Linked DNA regions of Homo sapiens. The protein of the gene in region 3 binds, or shares a complex with, the protein of the main gene of each other region. Each region holds a gene or a part of one and is shown on either strand. Other genes may lie near its edges. The genes, in order: DNTTIP1, ZNF541 and SAP30.

Region 1 (7,227 bases), on a different chromosome or scaffold from region 3:
AAATACAAAAAATTAGCTGGGCGTGGTGGCGGATGCCTGTAATCCCAGCTACTTGGGAGGCTGGGGCAGAGAACTGCTTGAACCCAGGAGGCGGAGGTTGCAGTGAGCCAAGACCGTGCCACTGCACTCCAGCCTGGCGACAGAGTGAGACTCTGTCTCAAAAAAAAAAAAAAAAATTTTTTTTTTTTTTTAGTAGAGATGAGGTCCCACTGTGTTGCCCAGGCTGTTCTCAAACTCCTGGCCTCAAGTGATCCTGCCTCGGCCTCCCAAAGTGCTGGGGTTGCAGGTGTGAGCCACTGTGCATGGCCCCAATAATGGTTATATTATTAAACAACTAATAAGAATACTTATTGGACACTTGTTATGTCTGGAGCACAGTGCTCAGCACAGTACATTTAAGTCACTTCATCCTTATAAGAGGTCAGCAAAAAAAACCACGTGCGTGACAAGGGCAGATTTTAAAAAAAAAAGGTATCTGAATTACCCTCAAGGAGGGAATAAAATTCTTGGGGGATTAAAAATTTGAAAACTGACCAGGTGCCCTGGCTCACACCTATAATCCCAGCACTTTGGGAGGCCAAGGCAGGCAAATCATTTGAGGTCAGGAGTTCGAGACCAGCCTGGCCAACAGTGAAACCCCGTCTCTACTAAAAATACAAAAATTAGCCCTGCAAGGTGGTGGGCACCTGTAATCCCAGCCACTAGGGAGGCTGAGGCATGAGAATCGCTGGAACCTGGGAAGTGGAGGTTGCGGTGAATCGATATTGTGCCACTGCACTCCAGCCTGGGTGACAGAGTGAGAATCTGTCTCAAAAACACAAAACAAAACAAAACAAAAACAACAAGAAAGGAAAACTTTAGATATCTGTATGTAGGAAAGAGACAGACTGGTGATGCAGGCAAGGACTGGGCTCCTCATGAGTCTTTCTCCTGTTATTTTTTATCCTGTGTCCCTCTCACCTTCATGTACTTGTTGAAGACAGTCTGGATCTCCTCGTTGATGCTGGGCTGCAGGACAGCTCGGAGGAGATCCATGGAGATGGCAGGATCTGTGAAACTGCATTCAGGAGGGAGACAGGGTGAGGGGGCATGTCCCAAACATATTCTTTCCCAGCCTCCCCAGTTAATTATGGACATAGAATTCCTTAACAATACTAGACAGCTTTTATTGAAAACTAGCTACATGCTCAGATTTTGTGCAAATCACAGAGGCATGACTTTATTTCTTTCTCATAATAACTCTATGAAGTGCATATTATTTTCAAAGTTTTTTTTTTTGAGACGGAGTCTCACTCTGTTGCCCAGGCTGGAGTGCAGTGGCGTGGTTTTGGCTCACTGCAACCTCTGCCTCCTGGGTTCAAGCAATTCTCCTGCCTCAGCCTCCTTAGTAGCTGGGATTACAGGTGTGCACCACCACGCCCGGCTAATTTTTGTATTTTTAGTAGAGACCGGGTTTCTCCATTTTGGTCAGGCTGGTCTCGAACTCCCAACCTCAGGTGATCTGCCCGCCTCAGACTCCCAAAGTGCTGGGATTACAGGCGTGAGCCACCGCGCCCGGCCAATTTTTTGTTATTTTTAGTAGAGACGGGGTTTCTCCATGTTGGTCAGGCTGTTCTGGAAGTCCCGACCTCAGGTGATCCACCCACCTCAGCCTCCCAAAGTGCTGGGATTACAGGCGTGAGCCACCGCGCCCGGCCCAAAGTGTTTTTATGAAATATAATACTTATACAGAAAAGTCTATACACTTTAATGAGTAATTATAGTGAACATCCATTTCACCACTATCAGCATCCCAAAGGCCCACCTTGTGCTCTCTCCCTTCCCTGACATGCATACTATTAATCCCTCTTTATAGTTGAGAAAACGGGCTCATCAGAGTCTGTTGATGAGAACACAGTTGTCTGACTCCAGAGCCTGTTCTCTTAAACTCCATGCTAACTGACCTCTTTAGAGCCCTCAACCACAGAGCCAGTGAATGTGAGGGATCTTAGGTATTGTTTATTCCACAACCCATCTCCTGTGCCCTTCCCCATTTTGTACGTGAGTTCAGAGAAGGAAGTGACTTGACTAGTTCAAGATCACACAGAGTTACAGAATCGGAGTCTCCTCTTCCTCAGTCCTGTGCTCTTTCTACCGGCTGTAGATCTCCATAGCCTTGTGCACTGGGGATCCCAAATCTGCCATGCAAGCCAGTGGCTGGGATATAAGCCCCATGCAGGGCCAGCCTTACCTTGTTGTCATCTGTGAGCGGCGGCCCCTCCGCTGCACCTGCCGGTGCTTTATCATTATGTTCCAAGGGTTCTGTGGGGACCAACGGAACAAATGTCACTGCGGCCTGTGACACTGGGGTGGGGTGGAGGTGGAGGGTGGGTATGAAGTTAAACCTGGACATCCCTGCTTCTCAGATCCGTCACCATCTCTCCCGCCTTGGGGTGGGACGATAGTTGTAAGGCCTCCTCCACAAAAGAGGAACTGAGGAAGTTTCCTGCCTTAAAAGTCCCGACCCTGCCTTCTGGCACGGCAGGAGGAAGGGAAGCAGTATTTACCGAGGGTCAACTCTGTGTCAGGTGATGTCCGGGGCGTTGTACCCGCCTTTATCTTCCCATCCCACAACAAGTTTTATGAGACAGGTACTAATCATTTCCATTTTATAGAAGAGGATCCTGGGACTCAGGGGGTTGACAGAGATGGCCCACGTCACCTAGCTAGGAGGGCGGCACCAGAATTTAAATCCAGGTCGTCGGGCTGCGAAAACGCCAACCCCCTCTGCAGCTCCAGCCTCCGCGTTCTCTCGCCCGCGGGCCAGGGTCCCAGGAGCCCCGAGGCCGTGCCCGGCCTGAGCCCAGACCTCACCGGGGGCGCCCTCACCGTAAGAACCAGCTGCCCCGCTGCGCCCGCATCCCCCAGCTCCAAGCCGCCCCTCTCGGCCCCGCTAGGTCCCCGCGGCTGCTCGGCGTCGCCAGTGGCTCCCATGGCGCCCCCGGCCCCCACAACTCCGCTGGACTCTGTCACCGGCCGGAAAGTGGCGCCGTGACGTCACTGGAGCGCGCTGCTCGTCCGCCCGGAAGCGCGACGCTGGAGCTGCGGGGTTACCATGGGAACCGAACCGCCGCGCCTCGCCCAGGACAGTTACACTTAGAGGCCTTGTAGGTGGAGGTCGTTGGGGCTTCCTCTCGGGAGGGCTGCGCCTCGATTGTGCAGTGTGGGTGTTCAGTGGCGGTTCAGTCAAGGGATGTTTCCCGCTGGGCCAAGGCCTGGGGATGACTGCGGGGTAGGAGGAAGGGACCAGTTTTCTGTAGGCTGGGGTTGGGGAGCAGAGGGAAGCGTTTGGTACAGCGGCGCCTGCAGTTCAGTTTTTGAAAACTAGATTTTAATATGCTCGGCCAGGGGCGGTGGCTCACGCCTGTAATCCCAGCACTTTGGGAGGCCGAGGCGGGAGGATCACTTGCCATCAGGAGTTCGAGACCAGCCTGGCCAACATGGCGAAACCCCGTCTCTACTAAAAATATAAAAATTAGCCGGGCGTGGTGGTGGGCACCTGTAATCCCAGCTACTCGGGAGGCTGAGGCAGGAGAGTCTCTTGAACCCAGGAGGCGGAGGTTGCAGTGAGCCGAGATCACGCCACTGCACTCCAGCCTGGGCGACAGAGGGAGACTGTCTCAAAAAAAAAAAAAAAAAAAGCACATTAGGCACATGTTAGGTCATCATCAAATGTTAATTATGCCGAGATCGCGCCACTGCATTCCAGCCTGGGGGACAGAGGGAGACTCTGTCTCAAAAAAAAAAAAAAAAAAAAAAAAAAAAGCATATTAGGCACATATGAGGTCATCATCAAATGTTAATTATCTCCATGAGCCAACATCAGCCTTCTAACCATAAGGGCGACTTCCTGGCTCCAAACTTTTTGATCCTATTAAGGAGGTTTTACCTTGTACCTGCCCATAGGACTAAGCAGTGCCAGTGGACACCATTAGGTATCACAGCTAACCAAAGGCATGACCAGGACAGATAAAGAAAAAAAGAAATGGAGAAAAAAGAAATAAAGGAGGTATATGTGGGCAGACTATTTGAGTCATACATAGCAACTTCTCTTGGGTTCTGCCAGCTAGACTTCATACAGTCCAAGAATGGCCTGTGTGGGTTAGAGGGACAAAGATGTAGGTGTTTGGTGCTTTTCATTAGTTCTTAACAAACTCAACTACTGCTTTTCTGTAGGTTTTTGATAGTTTCTTTTCTCTCTTTTTTTTTTTTTTGAGACAGAGTCTCACTCTGTTACCCAAGCTGGAGTGCAGTGGCATGATCTCCACTCACTGCAACCTCTGCCTCCTGGGTTCAAGCTATTCTCCTGCCTCAGCCTCCCACGTAGCTGGGATTACAGGCATGCACCAGCATGCCCAGCTGATTTTTGTATTTTTAGTAGAGACAGGGTTTCGCCATGTTGGCCAGGCTGGTCTCAAACTCCTGACCTCAGGTGATCTGCCCGCCTTGGCCTATTTGATAGTTTCTGAGTGGTCTGTTCCATTCTGTATTTTCTTGGTTGCTAGGATGAACAGGAGCCACAATTTTATTATGCTTGGTTATGTTATTAGCTTTGGCCATTAAGTAGTGTCGTGAATCCCTCCCTCTGTTATTTGGGCTAAAGCCATGTCCTTCCAATGCCCTTTAGGGCTCTCTTTGATTCTTTTTCCAATGGCCACCCCTCCATTTTTCCAGCCACCCACTAGGTTTCTCATCATCCAGGAATATTGTGTATATTGCTTACAGAATTTGATCCTCCCATCACAGGTCCCCTTTGGTAGTGCCAGGAATTTTCCCACACTCCAGCAGCCAATCCCTCTTCTTCTTGTCAGGAGAAGATATTCTTGGGGAGTATTGTGAAAGGGAAGGTTTTGGGACTGGGTTTGGGGCCATCCCTAGTCCTGCTCATACCTCAGCTGATACTCTGGGCAAGGTGTACACCTCTAGCCTGAACTGAGCTCTTGTCCCAACTCTCAGCATCATCATGATGTTAAGCTGCCTCTTTCTTCTGAAGGCACTTCTTGCTCTTGGGTCTCTGGAATCCTGGATAACTGCAGGAGAACATGGTGAGCTATCATTTGGGATCCCTGGCCAACAGTAACAGAAAGTGACTAGAGGAGAGGAGAACTCATCCCCTGCCTTCTCCCAGAGCAAGGTTGCTTGTAAGTGGAGATGATCATCTCTATAGGACAGGACTGGATGAATAGATTCTCAGGATGGCCTGGGTCATTCTTCCTGGCTTTCTTTACCCTCTCTGGACAAGGAGATAGGACTTCCAGTTGGGCTTACTAGAGGTTCTAGCTTTTCCCTAGAACTCATTAAATGAGAACAGGATCATCCCACCCTTTCTCTCTCGTTATCTGCAGGATGGCTGCTCCTTTAGCAGTGGTGGATATATGTTAGTATTTGTGTATGAGGAGGGGAAGGTGGTTGCAGAATTTTTTTTTTTTTTTTGAGATGGAGTCTCACTCTGTCACCCAGGCTGGAGTGCAGTGGCGTGATCTCAGCTCACTGCAAACTCCACCTCCCAGGTTCACGCCATTCTCCTGCCTCAGCCTCCCGAGTAGCTGGGACTACAGGTGCCCGCCGCCACGCCCAGCTAATTTTTTGTATTTTTAGTAGAGATGGGGTTTCACTGTGTTAGCCAGGATGATCTCGATCTCCTGACCTCATGATCCGCCCGCCTCGGCCTCCCAAAGTGCTGGGATTACAGGCATGAGCTATCGTGCCCAGCCAGAATTTTTTTTTTTTTTTAAGAGACAGGGTCTCATTCTGTCACCCAGGCTAGAGTGCAGTGGTGCAGAAATATTTTGGATAGAGATGCCTGGAGGGGCTGAAGGTCCATTCCCCATTTCTGAGGCCTGGCTAGTTACCCCAAACTCAAATAGTATCTTTTGCAGCAAAAGAGGGAGAATGCCCTCCCCATAAGAACCCATGCAAAGAGCTGTGCCAGGGTGATGAATTGTGTCCGGCTGAACAGAAGTGCTGCACCACAGGCTGTGGTCGGATCTGCCGAGACATTCCTAAGGGTATGTTGGCATGAGGGGCAAAATCTGGGCATACTCTCTGACATTGCCTCTGGGATAGATGGAAGTAGAGAGCTTCCCACCTTCTAGGTTGCCTCTGGAAGTCTCCCTTGCCTAGAGTACTTCTTCTTTACTCTTTTAGGGTCCCTCCTCCTTTAATTATTCAGTGCCCCCAGTTGTTTGCCTTCCATCAGGAAAGAGCGCACCATTGATTATCTATGTCTTTTACTTTGGACTCAAAGTTCCTGTGAAGGCTGGAGGGAAGAGTTGTAAAGGGAAGGCTGTGTAAGATAATGATTAAGAGAGTAGACCCTAGAGCCAAGCAGACCTTTTTAAGCCTTAAGCCTTAGCTCTTTATAAATCTTAAGCTTTTAGCCTCAGTTTCCTCATCTATAAAATGGGGATAATTGTGAGGATCAAATAAGATGTTCATGGCACAAGGTAAACGTCAGTAAATGTTACAGTAAATATTTGCTATTACTATTGTTGTTATTATTGTCTCTTTGTCTTAGCACCAGGGTTGAGAGGCTTAAATAAATCTCAGGACTTCCTTTTTCTGTTTTTCCCTTCTGCTGTGCCCGTGGGTGTTGCCAGGCACTATTTTCTCTCTCTCTCTCTCTTTTTTTTTTGAGACGGAGTTTCGCTCTTGTTGCTCAGACTAGAATGCAGTGGCGTGATCTCGGCTCACCGCAACCTCTGCCTCCCGGGTTCAAGTGATTCTCCTGCCTCAGCCTCCCAAGTAGCTGGGATTTACAGGCATGTGCCACCACCCCCGACTAATTTTGTATTTTTAGTAGAGATGGGGTTTCTCCATGTTGGCCAGGCTGTTCTCGAACTCCCTACCTCAGGTGATCCACCCGCCTTGGCCTCCCAAAGTGCTGGGATTACAGGTGTGAGCCATGGCGCTCGGCCTATTTTCTCTTTTCTTTGCTGTCTCCCTTTTTGCTACAGGGAGGAAAAGAGATTGCCCTAGGGTTATTCGGAAACAATCCTGTTTGAAAAGGTGCATCACTGATGAGACATGTCCAGGTGTAAAGAAATGCTGCACGCTTGGCTGCAACAAGAGCTGTGTAGTCCCAATCTCTAAACAGAAGCTGGGTAAGAAACGCTGTCCCCACACCTCATGGTCTGTTTGGTCTGCTTGTTTATTTCTCAAATATGCACATATCAGCTTGTTGGTTTT
Region 2 (7,120 bases), on a different chromosome or scaffold from region 3:
CCACACCCGGCTAATTCTTTTGTATTTTTAGTAGAGACGGGATTTCACCATGTTGGCCAGGCTGGTCTTGAGCTCCTGACCTCGTGATCCGCCTGCCTCGGCTTCCCAAAGTGCTGGCATTACAGGCGTGAGCCACCGCACCTGGACCAAAATTACAAAACTCTTACAGGGAAACAAGAGTGACTCTGCATGACTTGGGTCAGGCAAATCTTCACATATAACACCACAAGAACAAGTAACAAAAGAAAGGAAATTGGGCTTCATGAAAATTAGAAATGTTTGTCCTGCAAAAGGACCACTTTACACCTACTAGGATGGTTATACTTAAAAAGATAGACAATAACAAGTGTTGACAAGAAGGAGGAGAAATGAAAATGTTCATATACTGCTACTGGAAATTTAAAGTGGCCCAGCCATTTTGGAAAACAATCCGGCAGTTTGTAAACAGTTAAATATGGAGTTACCATATGACCCAGCACTACACTCCTAGTTATCTACCCAAGAGAGCTGAGAACATAAATCCACACAAAAACCTGTACATAAGGCTGGGTGTGGTGGCTCAGGCCTCTAATCCCAGCACTTTGGAAGGCCAATGCAGGAGGACTGTTTCACCCCAGAGTTGTTTTTTTTTTTTTGAGACCAAATTTAGCTCTTTCGCCCAGGCTAAAGTGAAATGGCATGGTCTCGGCTTACTGCAACCTCCGCTGCCGAGACCAGCTCGGTCGGGGAGACCCTAACCCAGCGGCGCTAGAGGAATTAAAGACACACACAGAAATATAGAGGAGTGGAGTGGGAAATCAGGGGTCTCACAGCTTTCAGAGCTAAGAGCCCTGAACAGAGATTTACCCACATATTTATTGACAGCAAGCCAGTGATAAGCATTGTTTCTATAGATTATAGATCAATTAAAAGTATTCCTTACAGGAAACAAAGGGATGGGCCAAAATATAGGGATATGTCTGGCTAGTTATCTGCAGCAGGTGCATGTCCTTAAGGCACAGATCGCTCATGCTATTGTTTGTGGTTTAAGAACGCCTTTAAGCAGTTTTCTGCCCTGGGTCGGCCAGGTGTTCCTTGCCCTCATTCCGGTAAATCCACAACCTTCCAGCGTGGGTGTCATGGCCATTATGAACATGTCACAGTGCTGCAGAGATTTTGTTTATGGCCAGTTTTGGGGCCAGTTTATGGCCAGATTTTGGGGGGCCTGTTCCCAACACTGCACCCTCAGTTCAAGCGATTCTCCTGCCTCAGCCTCCTGAGTGGCCAGGATTATAGGCACCCGCCACCATGCTCGTCTAATTTTTATATTTTTAGTAGAGACGAGGTTTTGCCATGTTGGCCAGCCTGGTCTTGAACTCCTGACCTTAGGTGATCCACCCGCCCCAGCCTCCCAAAGTGCTAGGATTACAGGCATGAGCCACCATGCCTGGCCCACCTCAGAGTTTGAGACCAGTCTGGGCAACATGGCAAGACCCCCCTCCCTACATAAAAACAATTACAAAAAATTAGCCAGGCATGGGGGTGCATGCCTGTAGGCCCAGCTACTCTGGGCCGAAGCAGAAGGATCAGTTGAGCCCAGGAGGTTGAAGCTGCAGTGAGCTGTGATCATACAACTGCACTCCAGCCTGGGTGACAAGAGTGAGACCTTGTCTCCCAAAAAAACCCCAAAAATTTCTATATGAATGTTTATGGCAGCATTATTCATAATAGCCCAAAGTGGAAACAACCCAAATGTCCATCAACTGATAAATAAACAAAATGGGGCCCATCTGTACAAGGGAAAAATGTTCGGCCATAAAAAGGAATTGAGCACTGATATGCACTACAATATGAAGGGACTCTGAAAACATGCCAAGTGAAATAAACTAGACACAAAAGGCTGCATATTGTATGATTCTACTTACATGAAATGTCCTGAATAGGCAAATCCAAAGAGAGAAGGCAGATGAGTGGGTGCCCAGGCTGGGGGAAGAAGGGACTGTGGGGATATGGGCGGAGTCACTGCTAATGAGCTCTGGCTTCTTCTGGGGATGCTAAGCGTGCTCTAAAATTAAGACTATGTGATAGTTGCACGGCCTTGTGAATATCCTAAAAATCACTGCATACTCTAAATGGGTGATTTGCATGGTATGTGAAGTACAGCTCAATAAATCTGTTAGGAAAATTACATAGGCCAGGCCAGGCACAGTGGCTCACACCTGTAATCCCAGCACTTTGGGAGGCTGAGGAGGGTGGATCACTGGAAGTCAGGAGCTCGAGACCAGCCTGGCCAACATGGTGAAATCCCATCTCTACTAAAAATACAAAAATTAGCCAGGCATGATGGCGCACGCCTGTAGTCCCAGCTACTTGGGAGGCTGAGGCAGGAGAACTGCTTGAACTTGGGAGTTGGAGGTTTCAGTCAGCCAAGATCACGCCACTGCACTCTGGCCTGGGTGATAGAGTGATACTCTGTCTCAAAAAAAAAAAAAAAAAAAAGGAAATGACACAGACTGGACAGGGTGGCTCACACATTTAATGCCAGTACTTTGGGAGGTCAAGGCAGCAAAATCACAAGTCCAGGAGCTCGAGACCAGCCTGGACAACATAGCAAGACCCCATCTCTAAGAAAAATAAAAAATTAGCCAGGTGTGGTGATGCGCACCTGTAGTCCCAACTATTTGGGAGTCTGAGGCTGGAGGATCTCTTGAGACCAGGAGATCGAGGCTGCAGTGAGCTGTGATCAAGCCACTGCACTCCAGCCTGGGTGACAGAGCAAGACCCTGCCTCAAAAAAGAAAAAGAAAATGACACAGAAGGGCAGGCAGAAGCATGGTCAGGCTAAATGGCCTCTACGTTTTCTTTCGGGCTGTAAAATTCTATGCACTAGAAGGCACTTAGATCAGTCCTGGGGCACATCTGAATAGCAAAGGAACCCTCAGACTAGGTACACCCAGGCAGGAGACAATCACTGAACCCAATGCTACAAGGTAGAGTGGCTGTGGTCCGCAGGCAATCCACCCTGGGATCACAGAGTGAGTGCCCCAGCCTCACTCACCGAGCATGGAGCTGATGAGCTGGTCAGGGCTGGCCTGAGTGGACGTGGAACAGAGGGTGTTGAAGTACACCCCAGAGCCCTCCCGGATGGGGCTGAGCATTGGGGGTGGTGTGTAGGGGGAGCACTGGAATAAGCCCTTCAGGAGGCAGTCCACCAGGAACATGGGTGACCGCAGGCGGCTCTGGTGGCATCCTGCAGGGCCAGGCTCCCCAGCCGTGGAGGGTGGGGGCCGCTTCTTCCGCTTTCTCTGCTGGCTGCTCTCCTTGCTGTCTCGCTCCTCCCCGTCTTTCTCTTGTCCCTGAAGAAGTTTAGAACCACAGGTGGTCGCCTGAAGCCACCTACTGCACCACTCCATCTCCAGGATGGAAAGAGAGCAGGAAAAGGAGACCGGCCAGAGACAGGAAACTAGGAAATGCACGCCCGGCAAAGGAGGCTGGCCACACCTGAGCCAGACCTGACGTACTGAGCCTGGCGATGATCCGGCTGCAGCCTTCTCCTGCACCCACTGCCCCAGCAGAGCCCCTGACTCTGTGTAAGAATAGCCTCAATCATTAAGATGACTGGCCCTTAAAAAGAGAGAGATCCCCAGAGATACAGTGTGACGGTGAAGAAAGAAATGCTGCTCCACCCAAATGACAAGCACCGAAATGACCCAGCCACTGACTCAGGGGACCTTCAGGTCCACGGACTGTGTCCCCGAGTCCAGCAGGAGCTTCTTCAGTAGGGGGTCCTCCAGTACAGGCTGCAGAGACAAGCCCTACGAGACTGATCACTCGTAACTCACCATGCTCTCTCTCACTTCCACAAAATCTCCTCTCCGCTCTGCCAGCCCTACTCCTCCTCATCCTCTAGGTCTCAGATCCCATACCTCCTCCTCCAGGAAGCCCTCCCTTACCTCCTCAGGCTGGGTCAGGAGCCCCCTGGGAACTCTCTGGGCTCCCTCTGCTCCCAGCTCTGCCCACTCTGGGTTGTCACTGTCTGGGGACAGGCCTGTCTCCTCCACTGGACTAGGAGCCCTGGGAGGCAGGGCCCAGGCTATTGTGGTCACCTCTGTGTCCCCAGCACCACCCAGCACAGGGCCTGGCACAGAGGGGCTCAGTGAATGCTGAATGACTGAATTAACATGCAAACCAGGTTCTTCTGGATCAAGATTTTCTTTTTTTTTTTTTTTTTTTTGAGACAGAGTCTCACTCTGTTACCCAGGCTAGAGTGCAGTGTTGTGATCTCAGCTCACTGCAACCTCTCCTTCCTGGGTTCAAGTGATTCTCGGGCCTCAGCCTCCCGAGTAGCTGGGTTTACAGGTGCCTGCCACCATGCCCAGCTAATTTTTTTGTATTTTTAGTAGACACAGGGTTTCACCATGTTGCCCAGGCTGGTCTCGAATACCTGAGCTCAGGCAATCCACCCGCCTCAGCCTCCCAAAGTGCTGGGATTACAGGCATGAGCCACCACATCCAGCCTGGAGTCAAAGATTTTCTGTGGTATCTGGTTTGGGTTTTTCCTACGGCTTCCCCCAGCAGCTGCGGGCAGTGGCAGGAAGGAGGCAGGCCGACAAGCACCCACCATGGCCATGCTCCCTATGTGTCGGGTCACTGGAACCACGGGGATCGATTGGGGGACCACCAAAGGGGCTGCAGCTGTGGGGTCCAAGGGCTTCTTGGTTCCTGGGGGACTATGCCTGTCCCCTTCTGGCCTCAGCACCTGTCTTAGCGGCTTGCAAAACTCTGTGCCAAACACCTAAACACAGAAGAGAAGAGATGGCTCTTTAAGAGATAAGGTAGGTGGGGAAAGGAAGAGCTGCTTCAGCAAAAAAAGCTGTCATAGAAAACAGCAGTGAGTCTGTGGCATGGACCAAGCTGGAGAGCTGCTGCAGCCCATGGCAATGGCCTGCCCCTGGAGAGCCACACAGCCTGACTCCAGCCCCCGACCCAGAGTGACGTCCCCATCCTGAGATAAGTGACACCAATCTCGTTTACTCCCCACAGGCCTGCCAGAAACCCAGTAACCACCAAGCCACTGGTCGTCCCCCTTCACCTGCGGTTCCTGCTTCCCTCGAGGTGACGGCCACTGGTCGCTGTGAAAACACATGTGGCTGCTCAGCCCTTTCTCCGTATAAAACATCTGGCTGCAGTTCTTGCAGACAAAAGTGCTCCTGGGCTTCGTCCAGTCTGTGGGACTGCCGTTTTGCTGGTTACTGTGGGACATGGCAGGAAAGAAGAGTGGGAGATTAGGACTCTGTCCTTGATCACTGATTTTTTGTTGTTTTTTTTTCTTTTTTGTCTATAACTCCAATCCACTGACTTTTTTTTTTTTTTGGAGATGGAGTCTCACTCTGTTGCCCAGACTGGAGTGCGGTGGCACCATCTCGGCTCACTGTAACCTCCACCTCCTGGGTTCAAGTGATTTTCGTGCCTCAGCCTCCCAAGTAGCTAAGATTACAGGTGTGTGCCAATATACGTGGCTAATTTTTATATTTCTAGTAGAGACAGAGTTTCACCATGTTGGCCAGGCTGGTCTCGAATTCCTGACCTCAAATGATCCCCCTGCCTCAGCCTCCTGAAGTGCTGGGATTACAGGCGTGAGCCACCGCGTCCAGCCTGACTACTCTTGATAAACCCTATAAAATGGAGGCTGTACCCTAATCCCATTAGGACTGAAAGCATCCTCCCCACTCACTTGTCCAGGGCCGGCACAGGAAGGCCAGAGGACTCCTGCCAGGGTGCATGCAGGATCGGGGGCTTCTTAACTTACCCTCTGCCTGCCACATTCTCTTCCTTCACCGGATGGGGGAGCCTGTAGATGTTTCCACCCTGAAGATGAAAATGCATCTGAACCAACACATCCAAAATGAAGAGGCAAGAAGAGCTCAAATTACAGACTTTTAGAAGAAAACATCAGAGTAAATCTTCATGACCTTGGATTAGACAGTGGTTTCTTAGATAAGACACCAAAGCAAAACAGACAAATTAGACTTCATCAAAATGTAAAACTTTTAGCCAGGCGTGGTGGCTCATGCCTGTGATCCCAGGACTTTGGGAGGCCGAGGTGGGAGGATTGCTTCAGCCCAGGAGTTTGAGACCAGCCTGGGCAACATGGCAAAACCCCATCTCTACAAAAAATACAAAAATTGGCCTGGCATACTGGCATGGGCCTGAGGTCCCAGCGACTCAGGAGGCTGAGGTGGGAGAATCACTTGAGCCAGGAGTTCAAGGTTGCAGTGAGCCATGATCGTACAACTTCACTCCAGCCTGAGTGACAGTGAGACCCTGTCTCAAAAAAAAATAAAAAATAAAAAATAAAAACTTTTGTCCTGCAAATGGTATCATAAATAAAGTGAAAAGACAGACCACAAAATGAAAGAATATTTGCAAGTCATGTGTCAGATAAGGGTCTTGCATCCAGAATATATAGAGAACTCAAAAAATAGTAATCTGATTTTAAAAAATAAGCAAAGGACCTGAACAGACATTTCTTCTAGAAAGATACACAGATGGCCAATAAGAACACAGAAAGGTGTTCAACGTCAGCAGCCACGGGGAAATACAAATCAAAACCACAATGAGATACTGCTTCACACCCGCCAGGGTAGTTATAATTTAAACAAACCACGGACAATAACAAGTGTTAGTGAGGACATGGAGAATGTGGAGCCCTCATACACTGTGGGTGGGAAGAGGAAACAAGCAAAACAGCCTAGTAGTTCCTCAGACCTAAAACAGAACTGCTGTACGACCTGGCGATTCTACTCCTAGAACATAAATCCCCATAAAAATTTGTACATGGGTGAATATTCACAGCAGCACCATATTCAAAATAGCCAAAAAGTGGAAACAACCCAAATGTCCATCCACTGATGAACAGACAAATAAAACGCGGCCTTATCCATCCAACAGAGGATCACTCAGTCATGGAAAGGAATGCAGCTCTGCCGTTTGCCACCCCACGGATGAGCCTGGAAAACGTCATGCTGAGTGAAGGAAGCCAGATACGAATGCCACAGAGTGCATGATTCCACTCATATGCAATGTCCAGAACAGACACATCCACAGAGACAGAAAGGAGACTCGTGGCTGCCAGGCCCTGG
Region 3 (4,199 bases):
CTATATTCATGCCACATAAATATCTTTTCTCGAAGACAAAATTTTGAAAAACAGCTATTTAATTTTATACTCTTATTTCAACTTTCAGCATTGTGTTTATCTTTGCTGGCACATTAAGTCTTCTTTGGAAGGAGGTGGGTATATAAATTAAACCATTTGTTCTTCCTAGTACTTCATCAAGTAATAATAACAAAAAAAAGGAAATAAAAAAGAAGTTGCATTCCAAGAGAAGTTTATTTTTCAAATTTGCTAGCCCTATAAAGCACTTTAAAAAATAATGCTATTTAGATTATCTTCACTTCCAAGTCAGATTGTCCCAGAGAATGCAAATGTGCTACATTTGTTACTTCTCCTTACCCTGTTAATTTCTTGGAAGTTTAAAAAAAAAAAAAAAAAAGGATTACAAAATGAAGGACTTTACATTAAAATCTCAATACTGATCTCTTAGTCAGTTTAAAAGAAAAATCAAGTTTCACAAAATAAATACACTGAAGCAACTATAATAGTAATAACCTTTATTTAAAATAGATTTAATTTAGGAAAGCTCATTTTATATGAGTTTCCAACTAATTATTAGAGTCAGAAACAAAGAAAATAAAATCAGAGAAAATCCTCTGTAGAAAAAATACACAAAGAACATTTCTACATGTGAAAAAACAGTAAACAGTGTTAACATCCAAGTTATTAGTCTCAATTCCACGTCTCCTAGTGAACACCACTATCAACCTTGAGATCTGATTTGTTCTTGTCATTCTTCACTGAGTAGATGAAATATGTTAAGGTGTCTTTTTCATTCACTGGAATAGACCTAAAGTGGCAACCAACTATCTACAAAGAAAAGAAAAATTAAGGAAATTAAATTTTAGATATAACAGGTTTCATAAACTACGTAAAAAATACGGTTTCATCAAAAGAAAAAGTGCTATGTGATAAGGGCTATTTCCTTTAAAAATTATATTTAACAAAATATCAACAAGACAGAAAGCATTCAAGAATAAAATGTTACGAACAAGAGATAGTGTGATTTCAAAGGACCCTTTGACCCACTCAATTTAATATACATTGATTAGAAAATATATTTTCCTTTTATTTATTTTAAATTTTATAATTGGGCCAGGCGTGGTGGCTCATGCCTGTAATCCCAGCACTTTGGGAGGCAGAGGTGGGTGGATCACTTGAGCCCAGGAGTTTGAGACCAGCCTGAGCAACATGACGAAACCCCATCTCTACCAAAAAAAATACAAAAATTAGATAGGCCTGGTGGTGTACACCTGTAATCCTAGCTACTCAGAAGGCTTAGACAGGAGGATTGCTTGAACCCAGAAGGTGGAGGTTGCAGTGAGCTGAGATCATGCCACTGGACTTCAGCCTGGGCAACAGAGCAAGACTCTGTCTCAAAAAAAGATAAATAAATAAAATAAAAATAATAAATTTTATAATTAGAATCTAGAATAGGGAATAAATGATTTTACTTTTAAACTTTAAATGAGATAAAACAGACGTAAGAGATCACATGCATCATTAAACCTGCAATGGTTTAGACTCTACTGATAGAAAAAGAAGTATGAAGTTGAAAACTTTTGCTAGTAGAGAAACCAACAATAACATATAAATTGTTTGCTGCAAATTATATTCATTCATTCACACCTTGGTAGCATTCTTTGGTTAAGGTTCCTTGAAAATTTTTCTGAATAAAAATTATGAATGGAAATGAGAGGAGAAAGAGGGATGTTCAATGAAGGATGTTTACCTGCTTCCTTGCTTTTTCATTGTGCTAACATAACATGCATACTACAATTACTAATAGAAGAATAATAGACTTACCTGGGGTGCTGACATGCATATTTAGATTCCAGAAAATAAAATTTCTTAAGAAAAAAGTTCATCCACACAATAATTAAGAGACTTAAGACTTAGTCATACAACCCTGGATTCCCTTAAAACAGTGGTCCCCAACCTTTTTGGCACCAGAGATAGATTTCACGGAAGGCAATTTTTGCACAGATTGAGGGTGGCGGAGTTGGTTTTGGTATGAAATTGTTCCACCTCAGATCATCAGGCATTAGATTCTTATAACAAGCATACAATCTAGATCCCTCACATGTGCACTTCACAAGAGGGTTTGGACTCCTCTGAGAATCTAATTCTGTGGCTGATCTGACAGGAGGCGGAGCTCAGGCAGTAATGCTTGCTAGCTGGTGCTCACCTCCTGCTCTGCGGACCCGTTCCTAACAGGCCACCAACCAGTACCAGTCCATGGCCCTGGGGTTGGGGACCCCTCTCTTAAAATATATGTACTACATCTGCACATTCCTTAACTTGCTAATATCTGCATTTCTGATTAAGTAAAATATAACACTCATGGCTATCTCTTATGTATAAAAAAGAAAATAGCTCTGGAAATAATATAACTGTTCTTAGAAGGTCAGTTTATCAAAAATTACAGGTTTAATTTATACCTAAATATAACATTTAAAATAATCAGTTCTTTGGTTCTCATTTGTCCCAAAACAGGGGTGCCTTCACTCCATTAGTACCTATTGAAATATTTCATCATGGTGGGCAATAACTATATTTATGTTACATTAATGTATTGTACAACCCCAAAAGAACTTGATCTTTTAAATCAAAATTAAAGAAAAATTAATTAGATCTGTGTTGCCCAACCAAGGATAAAAAATTTTAGCTAAATAGTTAATATATTAGATTTTAACAATGTTAAAAAGCATTCTGCCAAATAAATGTAACTTCTATTCATATTTCATTTTATTCAATAGGCACATTTTAGAAAATGTTGGGTAACTACTAAATCCATGCAAAGAATATGAGAAAACTGATTTATATTTCTACACTTCTATTTTGTCTAGTAGGCCAAATTTTCTTTTTTTAGAGATGGAGTGTTGCTATGTTGCCCATGGTGACTCAAACTCCTAGGCTTAATCAATCCTCCTCAGTAGCTGCAAGTAAAAATTTTTATTTTAAATATGATTAAAATATATATATATAAATCTATAAACATCTTAATAAGATGCACAGATTTCTTGGTTCTATTATATCCTGAAAACATATGCATGCTCCGTTAACTTTTCACAACTCAGTGACTGACTAGAAGTCCTCTATCAAAGCAAACTACAAGTAAAAGCTTGGGTAAAAGAAAAGCTTTTGCCTCTTCTAGATGTGAAAAAAACATGGATGTCTCTAATAAAACAAACATCAACAAGGACAAATTTTGAAATAGTTAAGTCAGCAAATTATAAAAATACTGTTTAGGGTCTGATTTGTAGGCCTATTCCACCACTTTAAAATATAAATTCTAATAAGGACATTAAAGCTTGTTAATTAATTTTATTATGCCTCAATTAGGTGCTCAAATGTTTACTGGTTAAACGGAGTTTTAAAATTAATAGATTTCTAAAGTGAGGATTAAAAAAACTCTCATTCAACATTTTGAGGGCCAGGCACGGTGGCTCACACTGGTAATCCCAGCACTCTGGTAGGCTGAGGTGGGCAGATCACTTGAAGTCAGGAGTTTGAAACAAGTCTGGCCAACATGGTGAAACCCTATCTCTACTAAAAATATTATACAAAAATTAGCCTGGTGTGGTGGTGCACACCTGAAGTCCCAGGTACTTGGGAGGCTGAGGCTGGAGAATTGCTTGAACCTGGTAGGTAGAGGTTTCAATGAGCCAAGATCATGCCACTGCACTCCAGCCTGGGTGACAGAGTGAGATTCTGTCTCAAAAAACAATCAACACATTTTGAAAGCCAGTATCAGAAGGTGCTGTACACAATCTACTAAGCAGTCATTACAAAAAGGAATTTCCTAAGTGGCAGACAAACATTTCTACACAACTAGATTCTTCCACAACAGATTTTTTAACTTTGTTCTTTCTAATTAAAATGTACTGTTACATACACTACATTAAAACTTCCATTAGCACTTAATAACCTCTCGGTTGTGCAGATAGTTCAAATAGTTTAAAACTCATATATACCTCAACAAGTTGTGCTTTATTAAGTCCTGGTCTGGTTGGTAGCTTGAAGTGTCTTTTGTATCTCCTAAGTGTATTTACTTGTAATTGGTATAAATCAACCTAGAAAAAATTAACATGTATAAATGAGTTCATACAATTTGTTGAAAATTTATCATTGATATGTATAATAACAAACATTTTAACTTCAGCACAATAAAATTTACT

The links.
Region 1: SAP30 (region 3) and DNTTIP1 share a complex: the UniProt entries of both Homo sapiens proteins name them as parts of the histone deacetylase complex.
Region 2: SAP30 (region 3) and ZNF541 share a complex: the UniProt entries of both Homo sapiens proteins name them as parts of the histone deacetylase complex.

Annotation. Positions count from the first base shown.
Region 1 is NC_000020.11:45,787,751-45,794,977, reverse strand, and holds the start of DNTTIP1 (deoxynucleotidyltransferase terminal-interacting protein 1), read right to left. Parts: upstream 3,025-7,227; 5' UTR 2,974-3,024; coding exon 2,869-2,973; intron 2,791-2,868; exon of another isoform or gene 2,702-2,790; intron 2,302-2,701; coding exon 2,231-2,301; intron 1,058-2,230; coding exon 961-1,057; intron 1-960. Other genes in the region: WFDC3 (WAP four-disulfide core domain protein 3), read left to right, coding at 3,261-3,271, 4,996-5,084, 5,919-6,047, 6,996-7,142. UniProt on the Homo sapiens protein: Increases DNTT terminal deoxynucleotidyltransferase activity (in vitro). Also acts as a transcriptional regulator, binding to the consensus sequence 5'-GNTGCATG-3' following an AT-tract.
Region 2 is NC_000019.10:47,535,106-47,542,225, forward strand, and holds part of ZNF541 (zinc finger protein 541), read right to left. Parts: intron 5,847-7,120; coding exon 5,788-5,846; intron 5,231-5,787; coding exon 5,071-5,230; intron 4,774-5,070; coding exon 4,600-4,773; intron 3,335-4,599; coding exon 3,037-3,334; intron 1-3,036. UniProt on the Homo sapiens protein: Transcription regulator which is essential for male fertility and for the completion of meiotic prophase in spermatocytes.
Region 3 is NC_000004.12:173,373,834-173,378,032, reverse strand, and holds the end of SAP30 (histone deacetylase complex subunit SAP30), read right to left. Parts: intron 4,095-4,199; coding exon 3,996-4,094; intron 829-3,995; coding exon 706-828; 3' UTR 501-705; downstream 1-500. UniProt on the Homo sapiens protein: Involved in the functional recruitment of the Sin3-histone deacetylase complex (HDAC) to a specific subset of N-CoR corepressor complexes. Capable of transcription repression by N-CoR.